Regions from separate parts of the Homo sapiens genome. Here region 1 is linked to region 2. The links come from fine-mapping of genetic effects on gene expression. Tissue or cell type: whole blood. Region 2 holds a variant in brackets; the other region holds the start of a gene. Each region is shown on its reference strand, or each on the opposite one. Region 1 holds the start of PPP1R13B (protein phosphatase 1 regulatory subunit 13B). Region 2 has its middle 190 kb from the start of LINC00358.

Region 1 (4,381 bases), not on the chromosome of region 2:
AACTCAAAACTCTACTCCCGTGGAATAGAGGTAAGATGTCTGAATGAATCATATGGAAAATGTAAGCCAAGTTTCTTAGCAGGATATTTATAATTAAACATTATACAACGACGAAGCCAGCCAAAATTTTTCTAGATATCCTTCAATGCCACCACAGTATGAATGCATCAATCAACTATTACAGGATTTAACTAAAACTACTTTCAAAATTCTGAAACACCATAATGCCTTTCATCAAAATCTAGCTAGTGAGAATTAGGGAGGGAAGTTTCCAAATGCCTTATCTTATAAAGTTAGAAATTGAAAATTCAAAGCCATATTAAGAATAATAAATATTTGTATGACATTCTGTTCAACCATCACTTTTGGATACATCATCCTATTTGATCCTCAGGACAGCGCTCAGATATTGGTACATTTTTATCCCTACTTTAGAGGTAATTCCAGGCTCAAAGACCTTGACTTCTTCAAGGTCACATAGCTAAAAAGTGGAAGAACCAGCGTTTCACCCCAGATCTTCTGATGCTCATCCAATTCTCTTTCCATTACAAGACAATTATTCATTTAAAACCAAATGTTTAGAAACCCAACAAGTCTGATGCTAAAGAAAGACCTAAGGATCAAGTAGATCAAACCTTAAGACTTGGAAAACGCTGAAAGCCGGCTACAAAACATGCTGGAATCCGTTAAAAACGGGGAGAAGAGATTATCAAGAGAAAGGAAATCAAAGAGGAAGAAGGGGGATCTAATCTAAATGTCCTTGGGTGCAGCATAGCAGAATGGCAATATTCAAGTAGAGAATGCAGGGAAACTGCACTTTCCTGTGAAATGTGATTTTCAACGTAGTATTGTAGGTTAAAAAAATGACTGTGTTACTTTACTATAAACGTGTTTGAGAATTTTACTTACGATATAGGCGCTCAGAAAACCAATACCTCTCCAACTGGGTACAACCAGTCCCACATTTTTTCATAAGTCATGATGCTTACCTCCCAAAAAGCCAATTTTTAAAAATCAGAATTCAGCATCCCCTCCTATTCAGATTATAGGTAAAGGGAAGGGTCGGTAGGACGATGGCAAATCTAATGGCCAATGTCTTTCTAGGCGAAAGCATCCTTAAGGGCAGGACAAAGACACCACCACTACAAACGAACCTCGTTCAACCTTCAGAACACGGAGAACAAACCAGTTAAAGCAAAACGAACCAACATTGCAGATACGGGAAAAGGGAATTCCTAAGATGGCTCTCCAAATCCGTGCACTCGGCACCTTTCCTCAGTACAACCGCGAAGGCTACGGGAATGCGCCTGCAGAGTGTGGGAACTCCGGGCGCGGGTGCCCACCCCGCCGACTCCCAGGGCGACCCCAGAACGTTCGTTTCAGGCGGGTCACAGCTGCGCCACCCACCAGACCTGTGCCCCAGCGTCCGACCGCGCACCTGAGAGGACCGAGGAGATGACCGGCCCCAAATGCATCTGCTTCTCCCCGCGGCCGCGGAGGCCGAGCAGGAAGGGCCCGCAGGCGGCCCCGGCCCCGCGCTGACAGCCCGGCGCCGCCCCCACCTGCCCGCCTGGGGGGCGCCGCGGCCGGGCGCGCCCGCCCAGCCACTTCCTTCCCCGCCCGCCCGGCCTCGCACCGGCCCGCGGGGGCTGGGAGCCGCGGGAGGAAGGAGGTTTGGCCAGCGGCCCGCGGAGGAAGCCGCCGCCACCTCCCGCCCGCCCTCACCCACCGGCATCATCGCGGGGAGAGTCCGCGACGCCCTCGGCCGCCGCCTGACAGGACGCTCCGCGCCGAGCTGTGCCCACCGCTCCGGCCGCCTCCTAAGGCCGCGCTCCCGCCGCCGTGCTCTCCGGCCCGGCCGCGGCGAGGCGGCAGCTGCGGCGGGCTGCGGGGCTCTCGCTGGCCCTGTCGCGGCCGCCGGCGCGCTGCGTCGCTGTCCCGGGCACCCGGCCGCCGCCGCCGCCGCCTCAACCTCAGCCTCAGCCTCAGCCCCAGCCCGACAGCCTGCGGCCCGCCCGCCCGGCTCGCTCTTCAGCCCCCGCAGGCCCCGCCCCCAGCGCGACGCCCCGCACGGGTCCCGTAGCCCCCTCTGATTGGCCCGGTGGGAGCGGGGGCGGGGAGAGGGGCGGGGCTTCCCGGCTCCGCCCGCTACCCTCGCTCTCAGCGGCGGCCAGGTGCGTGCGCGTCCGCGCTCCCGGCGGCGGGGGAGGGGCGGACGCGCAGTGGGCACCGGTGGCCTCCCCCGCCCTTGCGTGAGCCCCGACTAGGGAAGACCGCGGACGGTGGGAGGACTGAGGCCCGACAGGGAAGGGCCGGCCCGGGTCCCGCAGCGGATCACGGCAGGGCCGGGACTCGAACCCGGGCTCCCGGGGGCCGACTGTGGGCCGGGAGCGTCCCTGCGGCGACGGCGCGCGCCCGCACTCTGACCGCGGCCTGACCCCCGGCTGCCGGCGCGCCGTGGGGCTGCGGCCCAGAGGCCAGTGGGAGGGGCGCGGGGGGCCCCCGGAGCGAGCATGTGACCCGAGGCCGCGCGCTCGGAACCAGCCCCGGCCCGACGCCCTTGGCTGGCACCTGCTTCTCCCCCACCGGCGTCTTCCGCGGCTCTCGGGGCCGCGCCCCCCGCACCAGCTCCCGAGCCTTGGCCTTCGCCCGAGCGATCTCCCGCCTAGAACCCCGCGCCCACCTGTGCCACCTGTGCCCACCTGCGCCAGCATCCCTCGAGGTCCAGCTCCAGCGTCCCCGGGGAGGGTCCGGTCCTCGTCTCCAGGGCCTGGGTCTCTCCCTGCAGTCCCGTCTCCAGAGGCGCCGCCCCCTCGGGCCTGAGCGCCGGAGTGACAGAGCCCTGGGCAGGGCCCTGAGCAGACCCTCAGTAAAGGCTGCCAGGGGGGTAGGCACCCGCTCGGGGCCCCCCACATGGTGCCATTCGCCCGGACCGCGGCGGAGAGCAGACAGGGGGACTGAGGTGCTCCCCGCGGCAGCACCGAACTCCCACGGGCATCAGAAGGCAAGGTCTGCGGATGGCCCCAGACACAGAAGGCGTAAGCCGCCCTGGGAAGCGCCGGCCCAGTGGAGAAGGCCGCCGCGAGGTCAGGGTCAGTCTGGAGCCTGTCTGGTTCTCGGAGAGGCTTCTGGCTGCTGCAGAGTGGGGGCAGAGCAAGGGAGGAGGCCAGGGAGCTCCCACCAGCCCATTCCTGGGGAGCCACCCCTGTCCCTCAGAGGCCACGGGGGCTCGTGTTTGCGAGTGTGGACTTTCCAGTTAGACAGACTTGGTTCAGCACCGCCTCCGCCACACCCTCGCCTGGGATCCTAAACAAGCCGCATCTTCTCTGCATCGTAGTGTGCTTGTCTCTGTGATGGGAGAGTGTAGGGATAATAGTGCCTGCCTCGTGTCAAGAGGCTTTTTCGGATGCGAGGGATGGAAAGCGCCCAGCACAATTTGTGGCACGTGGTAGCTGTTCCATAAATAGCATTCTGTAGTTGGGCCGTGATTAGCAAGGAGGCTTAGTGTACAGACGTCCCTGGGATTTTTAAACCTATCCACACCTGGGCATGAATGGCTAATGACACCCCTCTTCTGGGAGCAGAGTTTGGAGAGAAGAGGAGGCTCTAGATAATGAGTGATCCTAGGCTGAAAGTCAGAGACATACTTAAGTTCTAATTCTAGCTGCTCTGCTTCTGACCTCCTGTGGGGCCTTAGGCAACTTGCACTCCTTCTCTGGGCCTTGGTTTCCCCAGCTTTGACAGCTGATGTCCCTGAGTCACGAAGGGGTACTTCTGGCCCACGAAGCCTGACAAAGGACAGGTTTTGCCAAGGCTCTTCAGAGAGGTGCCCCCCGGGGTAAGGTGATCCAAATGAGCCTGCTCTTCCAGGAAGGGAAGCATTGGCACAAGGGCTCCCCTCTTGCCTGCAGGACCTGTGGGCACAGACAGTGGCAGCTACCGTGCCTCACACCAAAGCATCCTATATCCTCCAGGTAAGGGTCCATTTGAGGCAGGCTGGTCAGCTCCCCCTCAAGTCCTTCCCGCTGGTCCCCATCCTCCTCTCCACCCAGCCTGCCACCTCCAGGCATCGGCCCATCACCTCCCACCTGGACCAAGCTCATTCATTATAAGCCCACTGCTCTAGCCTCCACGCCCCCACCATTCCCAACACGCCCCTGCCCTCCATCTTCCTGGAGCACACACGGCCCAACCCTGTAAAGCCCTTCTGTGTCTCTCCATTACACAGACCAAAGTTCACGAGCAGCCCATCAGGAATCGCCGTGAATGTTGTTAATGTGCAGTGGCTCACGCCTGTAATTCTACCACTTTGGGGGGCCAAGATGGGAGGATTGCTTGAGGCCAGGCCAGGAGTTCGAGACCGGCCTGGTCAACACAATGA
Region 2 (4,395 bases):
TAACAAACTTGTATCCTGAATCCATGTGAGCATTAAGATAGAGTATATATTGTGTTTAATGAAGTGTCTGGCCCAGGACTTAGCATTTTCATCTTATTTTAAATAAAAACATGGTTATGCTTTTACATTCAGGTGCATACATAGATGAATTAAAATTATGTAATGAGAATATACAAAGTAAACAAATTATTTGTCTTCTTTCTCTTTTTTTTTTTTTTTGCTTTTGTTTTTGTTCTTAATCTTCTTGGTGTTTAGTATAGGTAATTCCTTTATATATCCTGAATCTGGCATTCAGTCCAACAGAAAATGATGCTTGGAAAAGCAGATTATGGCTGAGCAATTTGATGCAAATAAGCTGAGAAAGTGCCAAAAATGTTCTTTATTTCTGGGATTAGGTTTTTCTGCCAGTGAATGTCACCCATTAGTGCTGTAAATGAACAGCCCTGTGATTTCCGTGAATCTATTGAGGATCTCACTTTCTCTGAGAACTGTGAATCCTTTAAACTAGCATGAAAAATATTTGAACAGGCAGAAAATCAAGTTCAAATCTAAAAACTGAGCTGAAGAAAGCACCTATTGATGCACTCTCAGATCACAGAATTTTGAGCCTGAAAGTACCTTAGACTATTCTAGTGCTCCAGAGAAGAAAATTATAGGGCTAAGGCCCAAAGGTCTGGATAAAAATCATCAAGCCAACTTGATCAGATTCTGTGCAGCAGGCAGGTGTCCTGAAATCCAAGTGAATAATTTTATTTTCTCTGACACCCAATTGTCTTGTCTCACCTTTTGTTATGAGCAAAAAACTGTCTTTTAATTTTGCCAATTTCTGGGGATTTCTTAAGAAGTGCTACTAGGGTATGGTAAGTGAAGGGAAATAGGACTTAATTGAAGAATAACTTACATGACAAGTCTGCACTTATATCGAGGAGAGCTTGGAATTCAAGGTAAAACCCATTTTGCAATAATTATATAATATTTAATATTGTCCTAACATTCCTCAGCCAGTTTGAAAAATGTTCTCCCTGTTTCATAGTTGAGGCACAGTGCTACTAATAGTAAAAAGCCTGCACACTATTTTTAACAACGTATCTATGTATGTAAAGCATATTATGAGAGCAGTAGCTGTATCATTTTTGTTCTGCCCTATCAGTCCTTTCATGATCATCAAAACCGTAAATGAGGCATCTCACTGCTTTCATTTACTATTGACGGTTCTAATGATAATAGACAAGGGCTCAAATTAAATTTGGGGAAAATAAAATATTTGTCAAGTAATTAAACTTATAGCCCATTACTGTAATCCTCTAATAATCGATGGCTCTATCAAGGACTGTGTTGAAGGTCATTTCTAATAAGACAGTTCTTTGTCCAGGGAGAAAAAAAAAAAACAAGGAATGCTTATCAGTTAATTTAATGTATGTTATTGGTTATAAACCTAACACAGACTGTTTCAAATGCACTATACTAAATCATAAATTTGAGAGGCCAGGGATACTGTAGGTATCAGTTGAAGCTTCGTCTGGAATGCAAAAGGACTACCAACATTTTGTTGTAAATTTGTTCTCTCTCTCTCTTTCCCTCTCTCTCTCTAATATCTTCCTGTGATGTAATATTGACCTCACTTTCAACTCCAGGAGGGGCTTCTTGGAAGTTTTAAGAATGAAATAGATCTCAGCCTCATATTTTATGTTTCCAAGTCAGTTGGAGAAAGCTAATGTATTTAATCATATTTCTAGTAAATAATATGATATACATTCAAGTTGGAATAACTTATGTCATTTGTCAAACTCAACAAATCATTATGGGCAACCGACTGAGAATCTACCCTGGCCTTGGAATAGGAGAGTCAATTCTACTCGAACCTTAAAGTTTGAAAATTTAGTACTGTTAAGAAGAGAAATAAGGGCATGTGTGTTAATTAAAAAAAAAAAATCAAGAAACAATCTTAAACTTCTTTACTTCAGTTCAAAATAACCATGCAAACTGTGGTTTCCTAGTTTTCCATGCAAATATCCAATAAGGCAGTTTACATGTTTCACATTTTACCAAGCATCATATTTAAAAGAGCAAATAATATGGGGCGTCTTCTTCATATAAAGATCCGAATTCATAGTATCAATTTTCAAAGTAAAGAAAGATGGTACTAAAAATGTTGTTATTTAATCAGGATTGACTGAAAAATGCCTGGTCAAATTGTATGTTTGCAGATCTATATCCAATGCAATAAG[C/G]CTTTTATTTTGAAATGTGTATTTATCTGTAATTCTGCAAATTATACTTAACATTTGCTTTTCTTAATATATTTGTAGAAAAAACAATGCTTACAGAAAATGAGTTTTCTAAACAGTAGTTCTTTTTTCAGAAGTCTTTAACTATGAAAATCATTTTTAACTTGTTTTTTAAAAGTAGCCTCAAAAGTCTTCAGATAGAGACCTACATAAATGTGCATTATTTTGTTTCCATCCTCCAAATGTGTTAGAAATGCCACATTTTATGTTTTTAATTAGTCAGACAAGTGAAAGACTTCAAAGTTTAAACATTCACATCATAAGTGTATCTTGACATTTTAAAGAAAGAAACATAATAATAATGTGTACTAACAGAATCATGGGAATTGACAGGTCAACAACTCTTTATTGTTTTTCTTTTTTTTTTTTGAGAAAACTTATTTTACTAGCGGTGGAATCAAAGACAAAAATATAATAGTCACAGTGTATGAGGCACTTTTTAACTTTATTATACTCATCTTAATCTTGATACACACACATATGACATTCTTCTGAATAGCACCAAACGGAAGCCATTACTGCCCTATTTTACAGATCCAGAAAGAGAAATGACACAAGAAACTTAAAGTAACTCGCCTTAAATGTCAGAGTTAAAATGTGACAGTCCCAAAGTAGCAGCCTAGCATAGTGTTTGAGAGCACAGACTCTTGAGGGGAATGGCCAGGATCCTAATTCTGGTTCTGATAATACTGTGTGCCCTTGGGATATTGTTTCTCAGTTACTTCATCCGCAGAATGAAGATTTATCATAGCTAACATACTGCTCTTGTGATGATTAAATGGATAGATGTAGACAATATATTTATAACAATATCTGAATCATATTAAGAGCAATGTGAAAAATTTTATTAGAAAAAATCGATGTTTTTTATGGTACTGCACTGCCAACGAAGTTGTAATTATGATAGGATTGGTATAACATATTGATACAATTCTACGATCTCTCAAAAATTCACTTGCTTATCAAACTTAAGATATATATATATTAGATATATATTATATTCATTTAATTACATAATAATGTATCAGGACACAGAAACCCAGGGAAAATGTAGAATATCTTCTTAAAGCATCACTTTTTCTATAAAAGATATATTTGATGTTTTTCTTTAAAAATATTTGATAATGTAAAGTTCACATTTTTAAAGATATGCAGTAACCCAATAAAGTTCTAGTTTTTAATAAACTACTATGGGTTCTGCCTTAAATTTCTAAAAAATCAGTTATTTTTATTATTTTATGAAAATTTGGATAAAAATTTGGGGCAAACACTGACTTCATAAAGTCGTTGAGACAGAGAACAATTCTCTATCAATTTGTTCTTTGATTTATTTAATGGACTTCATTTTTAAAAATCTATTATTAGAATTCTCTGTAGTATAGATATACCTCATGAGAAACTGAACTCTGCACTGAAAACTGTGAAGGATAATGCAATTCGTAACCTTAGGATCTATTAGCATGACACTATCTTTTCTTGATGAATTTATGACCAGATATGGTAACAAATCATATAGAAAACTTACAACTTACAAAGAAGTTTCTGACTAATAGAGTCACACTAATTGGATTCAAAGACAAAATAAATTCACAAAAACCAATAAAAATGCAGTAGGAAGAAAGAAATAATATATTCAAAGATATACAATTTTTATCTTAAATTTAGATTGCTTTTTTCCTTTTTGGAAATGTAGAACAAATAAATTATAAATTTCCCAAGCATGTAGAACTGCCTTAAAGTTCTATTGTGTTCTGTGCTTTCAAAAACACAGATTTGTGGAGCTTTCTCCCCACTATTTTTACAAACATATACTCTCTGTCAAACCAAAGAACAAAAATTTTAATGGGTATTTTTAGAAAATGTAATTTCCTTCAATCTATTTTAATAAAATATAAATTTTTATGTTTTTATTTATTTTTATCAAGCTCTCTCAAAGTAAAATTGAATATATATCTTTTTCTTTTCTTAGTCTATATTAATAATATTGAGGAAATAGATAAATAGAGGAAGGAGTGAGACACATAGAGAGAGAATGTCCTATACTAAAAAAAGAGTTCATGTTGTTTCTATCAGGATCCCACTTAAAGAATTTTTTGTGGGCTCGAACTTC

Evidence for each region. PIP is the estimated chance that this variant, and not a neighbour inherited with it, causes the effect. A credible set is the group of variants that fine-mapping cannot tell apart.
Region 1: it holds the start of PPP1R13B, and the variant in region 2 is the best candidate, but not a certain one, in a credible set for the expression of PPP1R13B in whole blood (TOPMed, PIP 0.73).

The regions. Positions count from the first base shown.
Region 1 is chr14:103,845,570-103,849,950 of GRCh38, forward strand. PPP1R13B (protein phosphatase 1 regulatory subunit 13B) reads right to left here and starts at 2,006. Exons shown (of 17, transcript NM_015316.3): 1 at 1,730-2,006. The coding sequence starts at 1,738. It overlaps PPP1R13B-DT (PPP1R13B divergent transcript), which reads left to right and starts at 2,152. Exons shown (of 3, transcript NR_038436.1): 1 at 2,152-2,174. RefSeq lists silencers at 1,516-1,715, 1,886-2,325, 2,346-2,475, 2,496-2,565.
Region 2 is chr13:61,839,201-61,843,595 of GRCh38, forward strand. No RefSeq gene overlaps it. Among named protein-coding and RNA genes, the nearest start is that of LINC00358, 190 kb to the right of the region's middle. The variant C/G (reference allele first, on the strand shown) is at 2,229.